2 linked regions of the Homo sapiens genome follow. The protein of the gene in region 1 interacts with the protein of each later gene in a pairwise test. Each region holds a gene or a part of one and is shown on either strand. Other genes may lie near its edges. The genes, in order: PTCH1 and HIBADH.

Region 1 (9,036 bases):
AACAGATAGATATCTTGCCCCCCCCTTCCCAGAACATCCTGAGCCTCTCCCCTACCCCAGCCCACTTCCATCAGAGTTGCCCTAGAAATCATTAGTTCCAGAAACGCATCCCTGCGTGGAGTCTGTGCCCTCCAGCCATGCAGAGTGTCTGCCAGAGGCTGTCCCTGGCTGACAGGTTTACCTTGGTATTCATGAAGGATTCCAGACCTTAGCCCTCAATGGTGGGAAAGCAGAACTACTTCTGCACTCTCCTCCTCTGCCATGGTGCTGCGGCCTTTATGTTTGAATTGGCTGACGCAAAACAAGAGTATTCAGAGATGCTAAATTGTTCAACAAAAGATTGGCCCGCAGAGCAGCCCCGCCATTGTGGAGTGCCCTCACCCAGCACAATGCCCCAGCTCCCACAGAATGGGCAGCATTTTCTTTGCAGAAAGCTGGTTCCTGTGTTCTAAAAAGGTTGCAATTGGAGCTATTTGGTAAAACTGGAACTCACAGAATTCTAGGCAGAAAGTTGTGATTAATGAAAGGCCAGGGAAAGCCTTACCTGATATGCTAGAGACTTAATTAGAGATTCTGCCGTAAGATGCAGAAGCATTTCACAGTGGATTAGCAGCCTGCAGAAGTGGGCTGCTTTTCCTCCTGGGCTAAATTGTTTAAATTCTACACCCTTCACTTCATTTGTTTGCTTCTGCTGGGTTTTCACGAGCGGGGCCCCTCGGCATTGTGTTTGTGCTTTCAGTCTGCCCAGCCATTCAGGTCGCATTCCATATTTTTGTGTTTGTGTAACACATTCATAAATAACATTACATGCCATCAGAGTTCAGCAAATTAACAAACTAATTTTTTTTTTCTTCCCTTCATGAACTAACACTTTGGGTTGTGGAATGTAGTCCTCAAAGTCATAAGGTAAAGAAACAAAAAGCAAAAACTCACCTTGTGTTGAATGTGAACTGCGGTTGGATAACAGCCTTTTCAGTGGGGTGGGTTTTGTTCATTTCTGGCGTTGCCATGCTGCTGTGTCGGGCACACGGAGGGTGGCGCGATCCACCCTGTCACAGCGCGTGTTCCCGTTTCCTCTTGATCTCCCAGGTATTTCTTTGCTGTGCTGGCGATCCTCACCATCCTCGGCGTTCTCAATGGGCTGGTTTTGCTTCCCGTGCTTTTGTCTTTCTTTGGACCATATCCTGAGGTCAGTAGTGACACGGGGATGTCCCACGTGTAGGCCGGCTGAATGCTGTGTTTCCTGTGCCGCTCTTCACTTCGATACTTAGGTGCCTCCCCACTTGCTGGTGGTTCTTCAGTAAACATCTCAGAGTCATGTCTGTTTTCCTCTTCGGTGTACTGGCTTTGAGGGCTAGAGGGCGGGTTCGGTTTGGTTCCTCTAAATCAACTGATTGGCAGCCTGGGTCTTACAGATCTTTATACAGTAAATGAAGACTTTCCCCTTGAGATGCATAATTGGACTTCACAAGAGTAAAAAGTACACATCCTGCCTTTCCAGTGTGGAGCAGAGGACAGTTCTTCTGCTCCAGCTGCGGGACCTGAAGGTCCTCCAGGTGGTAGAGAAGGGGAGGTTAATACGGCACAGTGCGCAGGGCCCCAGGGCAGGGAACAGAGGCCCCTGAAAAATACCGTGCTTTGAGCTTTGAGTGTGGCCAGCAGGTAAATGGACAAGAACACTTTTAACATGGAATCCCCTTAAATAGGTGTCTCCAGCCAACGGCTTGAACCGCCTGCCCACACCCTCCCCTGAGCCACCCCCCAGCGTGGTCCGCTTCGCCATGCCGCCCGGCCACACGCACAGCGGGTCTGATTCCTCCGACTCGGAGTATAGTTCCCAGACGACAGTGTCAGGCCTCAGCGAGGAGCTTCGGCACTACGAGGCCCAGCAGGGCGCGGGAGGCCCTGCCCACCAAGTGATCGTGGAAGCCACAGAAAACCCCGTCTTCGCCCACTCCACTGTAAGTGACTCTGCAGAACCAGGGGGAGGGGTCTTCCCACCGTGGTAGTGGGCCTGGAGGTCCAGCGGGGGCTCCTGTCTGCTGAGCAGCACATCACACAGGCAGATGGGATGCAGAGATAAGGTACAGACTAGGTCAAATCATAGGAAATAACCAGTATTTAACTCTTTCTCAACTATACAAATGCCATCTTCCTGTGGTTTGATCTCATAAAGGATAAAAAGGGCAGGGGCCAGTAATGTCACTGCACAAAGCAGTAGCATCTATCTTGTTCAGGGTGAGGACAGTTTGGGCTTCAAAGGCCAGAGATAAAGCATTCCTGCCTTTTTTTTTTTTTTCCTCTTAAGGTGCATGTCATTTGAGAGTGATATTTTCTAAAACTAGTAGTATTTTTATTGCCAACAGAGGTCAGGTTTTTTCCTTCTCTCATTTCTGTTAGGTTTCAATGCCCTTGATACAACATTCATTATTATTGTCTAAATACTTTACCATAGCTTTTGGGGCTCCAAGCTCATGTTCCAGGTGGCAGGAAAGAGCAGAGAGGCCAAGAACCACCCCTGAGTTCTTAGCCTTCAGTGATTCAGGAGGTCACCAGGAGCCTGGGAGCCCCTCCTCGGAGGCTCCAAGGACCTGGGTCCTTTCCTCCACCCTGTGCTCCCTGGGATGGGCTCAGCCCTGAAAACTCAAGGAAGGTTCTGGGCTGATGTTGCTCCACTGAGGGCCCCCTGCTGTCCCTCCAGGAAATGGGTATTCCAGTCCCAGGCCAGAGCAGCCCTTCCGTGAAAGAGAGAAAGGCCAACCAAATAACCTGAATTGTCCTCCTCCTACCCCCCGCGACGACGCCCGCTGAGCTGCAGTGTGAATCTGGTTTTGTTCAGCAGGAGCCTAAAAATAGGTACAAGCTGAACGACTTTGAAGTTGGTCACGGTCCTTTTGATTGATGTGGCCACTGTGTTGCTCTGTGCTTTGTATAGAGACGCAGAGACCAGATTCTTAACAATCAGATGGAACAGGCTGCCCGCCACAGCCCTCCGCAGTGACGAAAATGCCCTCTCTGCTTTCCAGGATGGGAGCCACCGGCCACACGTGGCTGTGGAGCACTTGAAATGTGGCCGGGGCTACCGAGGAGCTGGATTTTGGATTTTAGTTCATTAAAACTTAAGCAACCACATGTCTGGAGCGGCTACTGTGTTTGACAGAGTAGGCAGAGACAGTCCTGCCAGCGTCCTGCACTCAGGCCAGCCAGGGCCGCACACTTAGCAACTTCGGGAGAGGGGCAGCTCAGAGCCTGCAGAACCTAACAGGGTCGGGGGCAGGTTGTGGGGGGCAGCAGCTTGGATGCTCTGACCACAGCCCACATTTATGGGCAGCAGCAGTACGTGTCCAGCCAGCCGTGTCAGAGAAAGCCTGGAAACAGGATTTTCAAACAACACGCTCCTCCGCCAGGTCCTGGAGGTTATTAGAAGGACAGGCTTTTCTTTTGTGGGTGGAAGGCCCCCATTGGCTCCCCAGGGTTGACTGAGTCTTTGGTGAAACCCAAGGAGGGAAGTGTGGGAGCTGCGGGGACCATGCCCAGCCTGGGATACCACCCTTCTAACCCACCCTCACCCTCTGCAGGTGGTCCATCCCGAATCCAGGCATCACCCACCCTCGAACCCGAGACAGCAGCCCCACCTGGACTCAGGGTCCCTGCCTCCCGGACGGCAAGGCCAGCAGCCCCGCAGGGACCCCCCCAGAGAAGGCTTGTGGCCACCCCCCTACAGACCGCGCAGAGACGCTTTTGAAATTTCTACTGAAGGGCATTCTGGCCCTAGCAATAGGGCCCGCTGGGGCCCTCGCGGGGCCCGTTCTCACAACCCTCGGAACCCAGCGTCCACTGCCATGGGCAGCTCCGTGCCCGGCTACTGCCAGCCCATCACCACTGTGACGGCTTCTGCCTCCGTGACTGTCGCCGTGCACCCGCCGCCTGTCCCTGGGCCTGGGCGGAACCCCCGAGGGGGACTCTGCCCAGGCTACCCTGAGACTGACCACGGCCTGTTTGAGGACCCCCACGTGCCTTTCCACGTCCGGTGTGAGAGGAGGGATTCGAAGGTGGAAGTCATTGAGCTGCAGGACGTGGAATGCGAGGAGAGGCCCCGGGGAAGCAGCTCCAACTGAGGTGAGTGCCACTGACAAGGGCAGCCAAGGGACCTAGAGCCAGGCAAAGAGGAGGACAAGGTTCTCCTGGGGTTCTCGGCATCCCCGAGGGGCTGTGGCGCTCGGGCACATCCCACGCTGGACCCCAGTGACCTTTTATCCCCAGAGCAAGGCTGATGTGTCCAAGCTTTGTCATCCTTGGGGAACCAGTCCAGCTCCACACTGCTCTCTTCCCCCACTGCTAACCTGCGGAGGGTCGGTGCAGCGCCACAAGGACACAAACAGCACCACCTTTTACCAATATTTGCCAGTCTTTATGGAGGTGCATGCCACAGCGAATTGGTCACATGGGAACGCATCCGTGTAACCAGCCCCCAGATGAAGGGAGAGGTCACAAGCAGCCCCCAGGGACACCTCAGGCCCACACCCCACTCTCGTGATTTCTAATACCAAGGTTACTGCTGCCTGCTTTTGTACTTTATAAATACGGACTTGCACACCTCTTACTCTGTTCAACTTCCTTTTTTGCTTCCTTTTAAAGGGTGATTAAAATCTGAAGCAAAGAGGCCAAAGATTGGAAACCCCCCACCCCCACCTCTTTCCAGAACTGCTTGAAGAGAACTGGTTGGAGTTATGGAAAAGATGCCCTGTGCCAGGACAGCAGTTCATTGTTACTGTAACCGATTGTATTATTTTGTTAAATATTTCTATAAATATTTAAGAGATGTACACATGTGTAATATAGGAAGGAAGGATGTAAAGTGGTATGATCTGGGGCTTCTCCACTCCTGCCCCAGAGTGTGGAGGCCACAGTGGGGCCTCTCCGTATTTGTGCATTGGGCTCCGTGCCACAACCAAGCTTCATTAGTCTTAAATTTCAGCATATGTTGCTGCTGCTTAAATATTGTATAATTTACTTGTATAATTCTATGCAAATATTGCTTATGTAATAGGATTATTTTGTAAAGGTTTCTGTTTAAAATATTTTAAATTTGCATATCACAACCCTGTGGTAGTATGAAATGTTACTGTTAACTTTCAAACACGCTATGCGTGATAATTTTTTTGTTTAATGAGCAGATATGAAGAAAGCACGTTAATCCTGGTGGCTTCTCTAGGTGTCGTTGTGTGCGGTCCTCTTGTTTGGCTGTGCGTGTGAACACGTGTGTGAGTTCACCATGTACTGTACTGTGATTTTTTTTTTGTCTTGTTTTGTTTCTCTACACTGTCTGTAACCTGTAGTAGGCTCTGACCTAGTCAGGCTGGAAGCGTCAGGATATCTTTTCTTCGTGCTGGTGAGGGCTGGCCCTAAACATCCACCTAATCCTTTCAAATCAGCCCGGCAAAAGCTAGACTCTCCTCGTGTCTACGGCATCTCTTATGATCATTGGCTGCCATCCAGGACCCCAATTTGTGCTTCAGGGGGATAATCTCCTTCTCTCGGATCATTGTGATGGATGCTGGAACCTCAGGGTATGGAGCTCACATCAGTTCATCATGGTGGGTGTTAGAGAATTCGGTGACATGCCTAGTGCTGAGCCTTGGCTGGGCCATGAGAGTCTGTATACTCTAAAAAGCATGCAGCATGGTGCCCCTCTTCTGACCAACACACACACGACCCCTCCCCCAACACCCCCAAATTCAAGAGTGGATGTGGCCCTGTCACAGGTAGAAAAACCTATTTAGTTAATTCTTTCTTGGCCCACAGTCTCCCAGAAATGATGTTTTGAGTCCCTATAGTTTAAACTCCCTCTCTTAAATGGAGCAGCTGGTTGAGGCTTTCTAGATCTGTTTGCATCTTCTTTAAAACTAAGTGGTGAGCATGCATTGTGGTGTAGAGGCAGGCATTATGTAGGATAAGAGCTCCGGGGGGATTCTTCATGCACCAGTGTTTAGGGTACGTGCTTCCTAAGTAAATCCAAACATTGTCTCCATCCTCCCCGTCATTAGTGCTCTTTCAATGTGATGTGGGAAAGCAGGAGGATGGACACACCCCACTGAAAGATGTAGGCAGGGGCAGGTCTCTCAACCAGGCATATTTTTAAAAGTTGCTTCTGTACTGGTTCTCTTCTTTTGCTCTGAGGTGTGGGCTCCCTCATCTCGTAACCAGAGACCAGCACATGTCAGGGAAGCACCCAGTGTCGGCTCCCCATCCAAATCCACACCAGCACCTTGTTACAGACAAGAAGTCAGAGGAAAGGGCGGGGTCCCTGCAGGGCTGAAGCCTAAGCTACTGTGAGGCGCTCACGAGTGGCAGCTCCTGTTACTCCCTTTTAAATTACCTGGGAAATCTTAACAGAAAGGTAATGGGCCCCCAGAAATACCCACAGCATAGTGACCTCAGACCCTGATACTCACCACAAAACTTTTAAGATGCTGATTGGGAGCCGCTTGTGGCTGCTGGGTGTGTGTGTGTGTGTGTGCGTGCGTGCGTGTGTGTGTGTCTCTGCTGGGGACCCTGGCCACCCCCCTGCTGCTGTCTTGGTGCCTGTCACCCACATGGTCTGCCATCCTAACACCCAGCTCTGCTCAGAAAACGTCCTGCGTGGAGGAGGGATGATGCAGAATTCTGAAGTCGACTTCCCTCTGGCTCCTGGCGTGCCCTCGCTCCCTTCCTGAGCCCAGCTCGTGTTGCGCCGGAGGCTGCGCGGCCCCTGATTTCTGCATGGTGTAGAACTTTCTCCAATAGTCACATTGGCAAAGGGAGAACTGGGGTGGGCGGGGGGTGGGGCTGGCAGGGAATTAGAATTTCTCTCTCTCTTTTAATAGTTTTATTTTGTCTGTCCTGTTTGTTCATTTGGATGTTTTAATTTTTAAAAAAAAAAAAACTTTGCTGATATTTATAATTTTGTATCATAAGAATGTTTTCCTCTACAGTATTTGTCATGCCAGTTTATAACAAAAAAAAATGCAGGGATTTTATTTCTATTGGAAACATTACAGCTATGTTTTACTTTTGGACAGAATTTTTATTTGTATAGAGTGCTTACTAATGTTAAATAGTTCAGAGTATATAACATTTACATTAAGGACTCATGGTAGGTTTTAGGGTAAGGAGTTTAAAGGAAATAAATATTCAAACTGGGTCTCATTGCCAATTTTGGTGGAAATGAGTTTGTGTCATTTCAATTACAAAGATAAAAGTATGCCATATAATTTATTTATATGAAGATTTATTTTTGTAGTGTACATAGTAGTCATCAAGTCTTTTGACAGAAGTATATTTTTAAAGAATTTATATGTGATGAATCCATAATGTCTGGAACTTTGCTGAGACATGAGTGGGCACAGTTTTCATTGTAAATTACAGCAAGGAAAGAAAATGTTTAACAGTGTTAAGAGAGTCAGAGCAGAGTGGATATTCATGCGATTATGAAGTGTTTATTAGTTACCATTGGCGACCTAGCATGCTTCTCATTTCAAACCTTGGAAGGTGAAAATGTACAAACTCTCTAAATAATTAATGTTCAAACACTGATAGAAATTCTAACATGAATAAAAAATAATATAACTTGTTGGTTATATCTTTGTTTGTAGAATGCTTTTTTTCTTTAAAATACTTGGGAGAGACAGTTAGTGTTGGAGCCATCAGAAACTGTTGTTTCATCTTGCTGACCTTGTGACACTCTTCTTTTTTGCTCTATCTGATGGAGAGAGTTTTAGGTTTTCCTCCTTTTTGTTTTGTATAAATAGTGGGTATAAGCATAGCTCTGTTACATGGATGTATTACAAAGTGGGGGCTGAGCTTTTAGTGTGATCATCACCCAAATAGTGTACATTGTACCCATTAATTAATTTCTTATCACCTGACCCTATTTTTGTTTTCTCATACCAAGAAACTTCCTAAGTTAACCATCAAAATTAGTCCTTCTGTCATCTCTCTTAGCATACTTATTTCCCTTATGTGATGCCTAATAATGAGGGAACATAAATAAAGCCAAATTCAAAGATGATTATCATCAGTGAAGGTGTCATACTTCTAAACAGTGTCAAAGATAATATGGAATTGATTGAACCTGATACAGAACAGTTTTTGAGTGTTTCCTGGTAAGCAATGATTTCATCATAGGCATGGAGAAAAATATGGCCAGGAATATCATGTCCATGTTACAGCTGTGTAAGCAAGGAGTGGTGGGGCTGAACTCAAGGCCCACACTGCTGTGCACATGGGCAAGTTGCAGAGGGGTCAGTGAGCCACAGCCGGCTGGCCATGTCCTGTTGCACAGGTTCATGAGGAGAGAGTCGTGCCTGTTGCCGCACATGTTGTTGATGGCTGTTTTTCTGCTGCAACGGCAGAGTTCAGTAGCTGCAACACAGACTATGGTCTGCAGAGACTATGATATTTACTATCTGGCCGTAAGACACCTGCCAATCCATCTCTAGACAAGGTAACATAGGCCAGTGCTAGTCAAGTGTGGTCCACGAATCAGCCTGCCTTGGAAGCTTGCTAGAAAAACCGAATCCAACACCACCTAACTCAGAATCTTGGAGTGAGGTCCAGGAATCTGCTTTAACGATCTGTCCTGGTGGTTGTGATGCACCAGCGGAGGCGATCCCGAAATTCCAGCTGAGTGTGGCCAGGTTCTATCATTTGGCTTCGGCTCCTGGGCCAGTGCGGGCCGGATCTGGAAATGGCACAGAGATACCGACTCCACTGTGTGGTCCTTTCACAAAACACATGCTCCTCTGTGGGTGAGCCCAGGCCAGGAGCTTGACTGTTACGTCTGGGAGTCCAGAGTGAGGAACTCCCTTCTTAGTGCTCACCCCACAGTGAGGGAGGACCTGGAAGGAGAGTGTGGGCCCCTTTCCTAGAGGGGAGGGGGAGCCACGCCGGGCCCTTCCACGGAGAGGGCTCCCTGTCACCCACTTGACTGGCTTGGGCAAGTCTCTTAAAACCCCAGAGCCTGTGTGTCCTCATCTGTAAATTAAAGAGATAAAT
Region 2 (9,241 bases), on another chromosome or scaffold:
CACAGTCAAAGGTAGACATATAGAACTGGAAAACACACAATTGTTGCTACTGGATTATAATTGCTTCTAGGCCCCCTCAGATGACAGAGCAAAGAGACATGTGTATACTAACCTGTGTCTATATACACATTGATAAATATTTCTATATGTAACCATCTGTATCTATATTAAGTTAAGCATGAGTTCATACTGATGTCTCCAACTTTAATCCATTTAAATAAATGCAATAATATGTACTTAGATTTGCTCTTATCTTAGGACACAACTCAATTATCTTACCGGTGTTTTGTGTTCCAAAATTTTTAAAACTGCCTAGAACAAAGACTTGTCATGCCATCCAAATCTTATGGCTAAGTGACTAAGTTCTGGCCAGTGGGAAGGACAATTGTGGGGTGGGACTTATAGGGAGGCTTCTGAAAATGAGAACAGTTTGCTGACACACCTCTTTCCTTTACTTTTCCCTCCTTTTCTTTCCTCTTGCCTGGAACTCAGACAAGATGGTTGGACCACTAGCAGCTATCTTTGATCATGAAGTAATTATGAGGTTAGAAAATCATTTTAGACAGTAAAACAAAATGAGAAGTTTGGAATTTTGACAACTCAGAGCTGTCAAACTGGCCCTGGTTCTGCCTACATCCACACTACTTTTATGAGAGGAAAAACCAAATTGTTATCATTTGGACTTTGTTTTATCCAACCAAACCTGATGCTGATAGTTTTTGAAAGTGACTTTAAATGTAGTTTCTTAATCAAACTGGATTGTTTTTATGACTGCTTATATATTATTCAGAAAAAGACTTCTTGAGGAAAGTCACTTTGAGTTGAGTCCTAACAAGTGGGGAGTGTAGAAGCAGTATTAGAATGTGTGGAAAAGAGAAAGGAAGGAAAGAAGAAAAGCAGAGAACCTGAGGAACTCAGAGTGCTCTGGGAAAGGGAAAGAGTACTGCATTGTCAGGGAGGTGAGTACAGAGAGAATGATATCTTAGGAATAGGCGTAAAAATGATTAGATAGTGTGGGTATTGTTGGGAAAGTCTTATTCCTCTTCTTCCCAGATTCTGAGATTCTGATGACAGGAATGTTAGATTTTTTTTTTTTGAGACGGAGTTTCACTCTTGTTGTCCAGGCTGGAGTGCAGTAACGCGATCTCGGCTCACTGCAACCTCCTGCTCCCAGGTTCAATCGATTCTCCTGCCTCAGCCTCCTGAGTAGCTGGGATTACAGGCGCCCACCACCATGCCCAGCTGATTTTTGTATTTTAGGTAGACACGAGGTTTCACCATGTTGGCCAGGCTGGTCTTGAACTCCTGACCTCAGGTGATCCACCTGCTTGGGCCTCCCAAAGTGGGATTACAGGCGTGGGCCACCACACCCAGCTGAATGTTAGATCTTTTGTTAAGAGTCACAACACATGCCCCTGAGCTTCGTGGCTTTTTTTTTTTGAGACGGAGTCTCGCTCTGTCGCCCAGGCTGGAGTGCAGTGGCACAATCTCGGCTCACTGCAAGCTCCACCTCCTGGGTTCACGCCATTCTCCTGCCTCAGCCTCCCGAGTAGCTGGGACTACAGGCGCCCGCCACCACACCTGGCTAATTTTTTTGTATTTTTAGTAGAGACGGGGTTTCACCGTATTAGCCAGGATGGTCCCGATCTCCTGACCACGTGATCCGCCCGCCTTGGCCTCCCAAAGTGCTGGGATTACAGGCTTGAGCCACCTCGCCCAGCGCTTCGTAGCTTTTTAAATCCCAGTCTAGTTTCTCTCTGTTTAGATTAGATAGTTTCTACTGTTCTATCTTCTAGCTCAGTGATTCTTTTCTTTATTCTGCTGTTGAGTTAAAAAATTGTATTTCTTGCATTTTTTCAGTTTTAAAATTTCCATTTATTTCTTCTTTATATGTTGTTTCTTTGCTGAGATTTCTTTTTATTTAATTCAAGCATGTTTTATTGTTTTATTTTACTTTTTGAGAAGGAGTCTCACTCTGCCATCCAGGCTGGAGTGCAGTGGCGTGATAGCTCACTGCAACCTCCGCCTCCTGGGTTCAAGTGATTCTCCTGCCTCAGCCTCCTGAGTTGCTGGGATTACAGGTGCCCACCACCACACCTGGGTAATTTTTGTATTTTTTTGGAAGAGATGGGGTTTTACCATGTTGGCCAGGCTGATCTTGAACTCCTCACCTCAAGTGATCTGCCAGCCTCGGCCTCCCAAAGTGCTAAGATTACAGGTGTGAGCCACCATGCCTGGCCTCAAGCATGTTTTAATTGCTTCTTGAAATATTTTCTGATGGATGCTTTCAAATCTTTGTTAGATAATTTTAACTTGTCATCTCAGTGTTGGCATCTATTGTCTTTTTTATTCAGCTTGAAATCTTCCTGGGTTTTGGAATCATGAGTCATTTTTTAATTGAAATTTGGTATCATGAGTGATTTTTTGTTGAAATCTGGACATTTGGGTATTATGATATTTTGGATATTATTTAAACCTTTTATTTTAACTAGTTTTTCTTGACACTGCTCTGGCAGGGGGCATCAACTTGTAAATGGCAACTGGTAGTAGAAGTCTAGGTTCCTTATTCCACCTCTGTTGACACCAAGGGTGGGTGGTTCCTTGTTACTGCTGGGCAATGGTGGGAGTTTCAGCTCCCCACTAGTTGTCCACTGATACTTCCCTAGTTGAGAGGGCTTGGAATGGCTCCTTACTGCCCCCATGTAGCCTCCAGTGACACCATGGAGGGGAAGGGGTGTGACATCCTTACCATTGGGCAGTGATGAAAGCTCTGACTCTCCAATACACCTCCAATTACACCATCTAAGCAGGGAAAGGGAGGGGTACCTCACCACTGTAAGGTAGGAGTGGAAATCCAGGGTCGCCCTGTGGTTTCCAGTGACACTGAGAGTAGGGAAGGATGTGTGTGGAGGATTACTTGTTACTGCCCAGTTGAAGATGAAAATCCCATACCTCTCTTTGGTTTTCTCTGACATCACCTTAGAGGGGTTGAGGAGTAGAGCGATTGGGGTGTTAGGATGCTGGGGTGTCTCATCACAACCTGGAGAGTGTGGAAGTCTAGGCTCCCAACTCAGCCTTTGCTTTATGGGGTGGGGTCAGTGTGTGTATGTATGTGTGTATTGTTTGTCTACAGTGGAGTGATTATCTTCTAAATGTTTCCTTTCTTGCTAGGCCACTCCTTTTTCATCACTTGGCTAGAAAGAGCAGCCTTTTATTGGGGCACTTTTTGTCTATCTATGCTTCCTGGCATTTTGGGGTTTCTGGTTTTGGCTTCTCCAGCACCCAGTTTGGGGTATATAAGGCTACATGAAAACCCAAGGAACTTCCCACCGTGTTGCTCTCTGGACCCTAGCCAGTGTGACTTCTCTCCACCTTTCAAAGTCTCCCTATGTTTATCTTATATATAATGTTGAGTTTTTAGTTGTACTTAGAAGAATAGGGAGAAACCTATCTACTCCATCTTCCTGGAAGCGGAAGTCAGGGGCCACTATAAGGCATTGAAACAATTACAAACAAAAATGCGTGGCAAAGACTCAGGGAGGAGTTGCAGTGCCTTTCAAACAAGGGCATCAGGAGGGCAATCAAATGAAGAAAGCTAACCAGCCATAGGCAGGAACTGCATTTGCCAGTACAATAATATCTGCAAGCACCTTCAAACAGTAAGAATTACTTAAAAATTCATAACGCTTCTTTAAAATCATGGAAACCTATGAAAATTCCTTAGTTTATGAATCAATGTAGGGCTTCTTGGAGGAGACATTGTTGGAGAAGACAATGCAGGGCTTCTTGGAGGAGACACAGTTGAAAGACCAATTGCAGTTCAGGAGTTAATTATAGAAACCTGTAGTGCTGGAGGAAGAAAAAGAAAAAGAAACCTGTAGGCCCACATTTGTTGCCTGCAGGAGATCTATTCCAGCTAAAACCTGACGAAACCAGGAAGAGAGGCACAGGTGGGAAATGCTCCAGAAACTAATTTACCCCTAGTAGGGGTGGGGACCCAAATCTAGGAGAAGGTCTAATTGTTGAAATGAGTTTTTTCTCCCTCCCTCCCTTCGTCCCTTTCCTTCCTTCTTTTCATTTAGTGTTGGGTAGAGGGTTGGGGTGGAGTGATGGTCAAAGAAGGGCATTAACTTCCTCCCAGTTACAGATAGGGACCTTGCACTCTGTACAAGTTTTTAAGTTTTTGGAAACGTTGCCAGCATGCCCAGAAACATGAAAAGAGCCCAGATGGAAATGATCCAATTCCTTTGCTTTCAACTCCATGGGTTACTGAGTTGAAAAAAAGGTCAAAGTCAAATTTTGTTGATTGTGCTACTTAGATTGGGGTTCGCATTTCCCTAGCTACTCCATACACATTCTCTTTCCTGCTGTATTGCCATTCTCCAAAGGCTATAGTCTTGCTTTGGTGTGGTCATGGCTTCCAACCCTTTGGTGGAGTCAGTGGAGATGAGAAGGCCTGCAATTACCCCCAAGGGGTTTACAGACTCAAATATGTACACTAAGCATTGACAGAAGAATGACTAAATGTCTGTCTCTCTGCACCGCGCAGTGGCTCACGCCTGTAATAACCAGCACTTTGGGAGGCCGAGGCGGGCGGATCACTTGACGCCAGGAGTTTGAGACCAGCCTAGGCAAAATGGCGACACCCCGCCTCTACTCAAAGTGCCAAAAAAATTAGCCGGGTGTGGTGGCGCACGCAGGCCTATAGTCCCACCTCACCTACTCCGGAGGCTGAAGCAGGAGAATCACTTGAACCCGGGAGGCGGAGATTGCAGTGAGCCGAGATCGCGCCACTGCACTCCAGCCTGGGTGACAGAGAGACTCCGTCTCCAAAAAAAAAAAAGGTCTTTCTAATACACATACATATACTACTACTTTCTGGATTTTATATTTAGTTTTGCTTACAAAATGGATTTAGGGTGTAGAATTTTCAAAGATTAGAGAAATATGCCTTGAAATAGAAAGTGCAAGTTTCTAGTAACTCTTCCCTTCAAAGATAATGTTACCAACTTCTTTTCCTACTATTTTTAGTATTGAGAAACTGTTGTGTTAAGTAAAATCAAATGAATTTAAAAGTTATTACACACATGGTAGCTTTCTGAGTGTTTTTCAAGCTGCGAGTCAGTTTTGTCCTTTTTAACACGCAGCGGTTGTGGGGACAAGGTTTCCGAGGAGGCGGGAGCGAGCGACGGCCCCCGCCTCCCACACGCCCTCTGCTTTGGTAAACAAGGAGACTCCCGCCCGCAGGCTGTAAATGAGGCACGAGCTTGGGGGCAGCGCCAGGGCGCCTGGCGTCACTGTTCAAAAAGGCCTCTTATTGGTCCTTCGCACAGCTGCGGACCTGGGAATTCTGATTGGTCTGCTTCCCTGTCCGTAAAGGGATTGACAGGCCCTGCCGCGTCAGGCCGCTCCTCTCGGCTCCGCGCTCCTTCCCTCGCGCGTGGGCACCCGCCCCCGAGCGGTGAGAGCGCGTGCGCGCGCGCCCTTCTCCGTGGGCGAGCCAGCCAGTCCCGCTGCACACGCTCGCAGTCTGTGGGCCCTCCGGGAGGCGGCGGAGGTCACCGCGGGGAGAGGGGCGGGCGCAGCATGGCAGCCTCCTTACGGCTCCTCGGAGCTGCCTCCGGTCTCCGGTACTGGAGCCGGCGGCTGCGGCCGGCAGCCGGCAGCTTTGCAGCGGGTAAGGACCTCACGCCTCCTCCCCCTTGTCCTTCTTTCGGCCGCTCGCTTCTTCTGTCCAGACGGCCGAAGAAGTCTTTTCTCGGGAGGCCCTGCGGTTGGGCTGGGGCTTAAAAAACAATATTTTGGCTGGTACTAAAGGCCTGTCCTTTTCTGCGGCCGCCACTCACTCCGCGAGTACCCCCCTCTGCCTTCCCTCCCTTTCTCCCGGGCTCCTGATGAACGGGTTCAGCGCCCTTTTCGGGATTTAGGAAGAGGTGGGGAAGAGCTTGGGCTGAAGAGAAGAGAGTATTTGGGACCCCGGCATGCTGCTTTGGAGTTAGGACTCCGAGGACGTTTGGAGCGCCCAACTCCAGGAGCAACCCGCACTCACCCCAGCGACCCCTGGTCTTTCAGCGCCCCCAGGGTGCACCTTGGGTTGGGGACACACTTGGGCAGCAGGGCCTGATGTTTAACCACCTGAGTCCGAGGGGATGGCCTTATTACACAAGCGGTGGCTGTACAAGCCAGGCAGTAAGTCTTTCAGCAAAGTTTCAGTCACCCTTGACCAGCAAGACGGGCTTCCCCCCTCTACTGTAACCTAAAAAAATGTCATTTTTGTCAAATTATGAACCAAAACACGTTCAGCGTCCTCAAGATTGTGGGCAGAATTAATCCTGCCTCCCTCCTCTCATACCATGGTAAATTGTGGAAGCTAGCCATGAACTTACAAAGAGGCAGTTTTTAGAGCCAGGATGAAGATCCACGGAGATCTAATACAGTCTTTCATACTCCGCACGAGGGACATGAGGCCCCTTGGATGAGTGAATCAGGATATTCCCAGCAAGACCTAGAAAGTTGTTATCAGTTGTTCCTAATTCCTTAACTTTCTATCACACCAGGACTCCTCTTTAATTGAAAAATTGGTTGATTTGTGGGGGCACTGCCGTTGTCTTCCTCAAACTGAAAGTTTGAGAGTTGTAACAATGCATCGTTTAGCAAGATCATACTGAGGATTAATAACAAAAAAAACCTTGGCATTAATTTTTTCTAATCTTTGCTTAAAAAAAAAATAGTGGGTTAGGATTTGAGCCCCTTGGCCCCCCGCCCTTTTTTTTTTTTTTTTTTTTTTTTGAGACAGGGTCTCTGTCGCCCAGGCTGGAGTGCAGTGGCCCAGTCACACTGCTCACTGCAGTCTCGACCTCCTGGGCTCAGGTGATCCTCCCACCTCAGCCTCCCGAGTAGCTGGGATTACAGGCATGTGCCACCACGCCCGTCCAATTTTTGTATTTTTAGTAGGGACGGAGTTTCGCCATGTTGCCCAGGCTGGTCTTGAACTCCTGCGCTCAAGTGATCCTCCCAAAGCGTTGGGATTATAGGCATGAACCACTGTGGCTGGCCAGGAATTGTAAGAACTTTCTCTTACAATTCTTAACAGCTTCCCATTCTCCCCCTCAGTGAAACCTCTGAATTTCCTTTCTGGCTGGAGAAGAACAGAGGCTCGGTGAGATGCAAGAGACCAGATGTCTGATACAGAACCACAGTAACAAGATAAAAACTCAGAATATGCCAAACTTGAATGTAACCACTGTTTGAGCTTCATATATTGAGCTACAAAAATGCTTCCGACTTTTGAGATAACCCTAAAAGAATAGACACTTTTCCACAGTAGCACCAGTTTTCACATGAATTCACAATTCTTTCAGTTCCCATTAGCCAAGGAAGACATATTTGCTGTTTAGTGGTTTTACAAGGTGTTCTAATGGTATTTTAATGAACCCTTGATGTACCTTTTAGAGTTATGAAAGTTCTTACCAATTCATGGTGAAAGAGCCTGAGGCCTAAGACTGTAATACGTGCCTCTGTAAACTGGGAGGGCCTACCTCAGAGTGCTGATTAGACTACTTTGGCATATGGTCTTGTACTTTGGGTTCTTTGGCCCAAAGGTAATTGTCAGAATATAGATTTCTGATAAATTTTAAATAGTTCTTTTGTGATGAAGTGGTTAAATCACTTAAGCAATTTTTTTTTCTCTTGAAAAAAATTTTTTTTTTTCCCTCGGAGTCTTTGTCTGTCGCCCAGGCTAGAGTGCATTGGCGCAATCTCAGCTCACTGCAAGCTCCGCCTCCCAGGTTCACGCCATTCTCCTGCCTCAGCCTCCGGAGTACCTGGGACTACAGGCGCCTGCCACCACGCCCGGCTAGTTTTTTGGTATTTTTTAGTAGAAACGGGGTTTCACCATGTTAGCCAGGATGGTCTCTATCACTTGACCTCGTGATCCGCCCGCCTTGGCCTCCCAGAGTGCTGGGATTACAGGCGTGAGCCACTGTGCCCGGCCTTTCTTTGGAATTGTTTTAAACATTTAAATTTCTGTTAATTTTAGTTTACTGCAAAAGTGTTAACTTTTCTGACATTAGATTCTTAAAGAGTAGAAAAAAATCTGCCTGCAAGTTTGGAGTCAAATGACATTAAGAAAAAGAACCATGTTCAGATAGTAATGTGTGATGTTCTGAATTCTGTTGGATATTTGTAGTATGTTTAAGATGTTTATATCATATGAATGATAATATTATAAGGAGCTATATAATTTACTGTTTAAAAAAATGAAACCTGAAAGTTGCCGGTTAGTAGCACATCTTTTTAACTTTTTTATAAATACATTTTAGAGACAGGTCTCCCCGTGTTGTCCAGGCAGGAGTACAATGGCACCTACTTAGCTCACTGCAACCTTGAACTCCTGTACTCAAGTGATCTTCCGCCTCAGCTTCCCAAGTAGTTAGGATTGCAGGGTGCACCACGATACCTAGCTAATTTAAAAAAAAATGTTTTTTGAGACAAGGCTAGTTGCCTACTACGCTGGTCTAGAACTACTGGCGTGAAGCCATCCTCTTGCCTTGACCTCCCAAAGTGTTGGGCTTACAGGCATTAGCCACTGTGCCCAGCCTGCCACATCTTAATTTTTAAATGTTTGTTTGTTTGTTTGTTTGTTTATTTGAGATGGGGTCTCTCTCTCTCTCTTGTCCAGGCTGGAGTGCAGTGGTGCAATCATGGCTCATTGCAGCCTCAACCTCGTGGGCTCAAGCAATCCCCCTGCCTCAGCCTCCCAAGTAGCTGGGACCACAGGTGCACACCACCACACCTGGCTTTATTTATTTATTTATTTTTTTTGTAGAGATGGGGTCTCACCATGTTGCCCAGCCTGGTCTTGAACTCTGGGGGTCAACTGATCCTCCTGCCTCAGCCTCCCAAAGTACTGGGATTACAGTCATGAGCCACTGTGCCTAAGCCTAATTTTAAAATACTTAAAGCATTGAAAAGGAAATAGAAGAATGAGAAATGTTAAAGTGTACATGTATTACTATTTCATCACCTGTTTGATAAAATTGTGTATGTTATTTTAGAAGGTAATTAAGTTTAGTTTCAGACTTATTTGTACAGAGAAGAAAATCTACAGCTATAGGCCCTCTACAAAATGTCACGTTGTGACTCTACAGCTTGTACATGGAAAAATAAATCACATCAGATCATCTTGAGGTGACCACCTGACCAAAGGTAGAATGGAAAAATTAGCATCATGTATAGAAAC

The links.
Region 2: the proteins of PTCH1 (region 1) and HIBADH interact in binary tests that used the Homo sapiens proteins (3 or more experiments, as listed by UniProt).

Annotation. Positions count from the first base shown.
Region 1 is NC_000009.12:95,441,994-95,451,029, reverse strand, and holds the end of PTCH1 (protein patched homolog 1), read left to right. Parts: intron 1-1,089; coding exon 1,090-1,189; intron 1,190-1,706; coding exon 1,707-1,961; intron 1,962-3,578; coding exon 3,579-4,118; 3' UTR 4,119-4,119; intron 4,120-4,638; 3' UTR 4,639-8,050; downstream 8,051-9,036.
Region 2 is NC_000007.14:27,659,134-27,668,374, reverse strand, and holds the start of HIBADH (3-hydroxyisobutyrate dehydrogenase, mitochondrial isoform 1 precursor), read left to right. Parts: upstream 1-5,491; 5' UTR 5,492-5,586; coding exon 5,587-5,677; intron 5,678-9,241.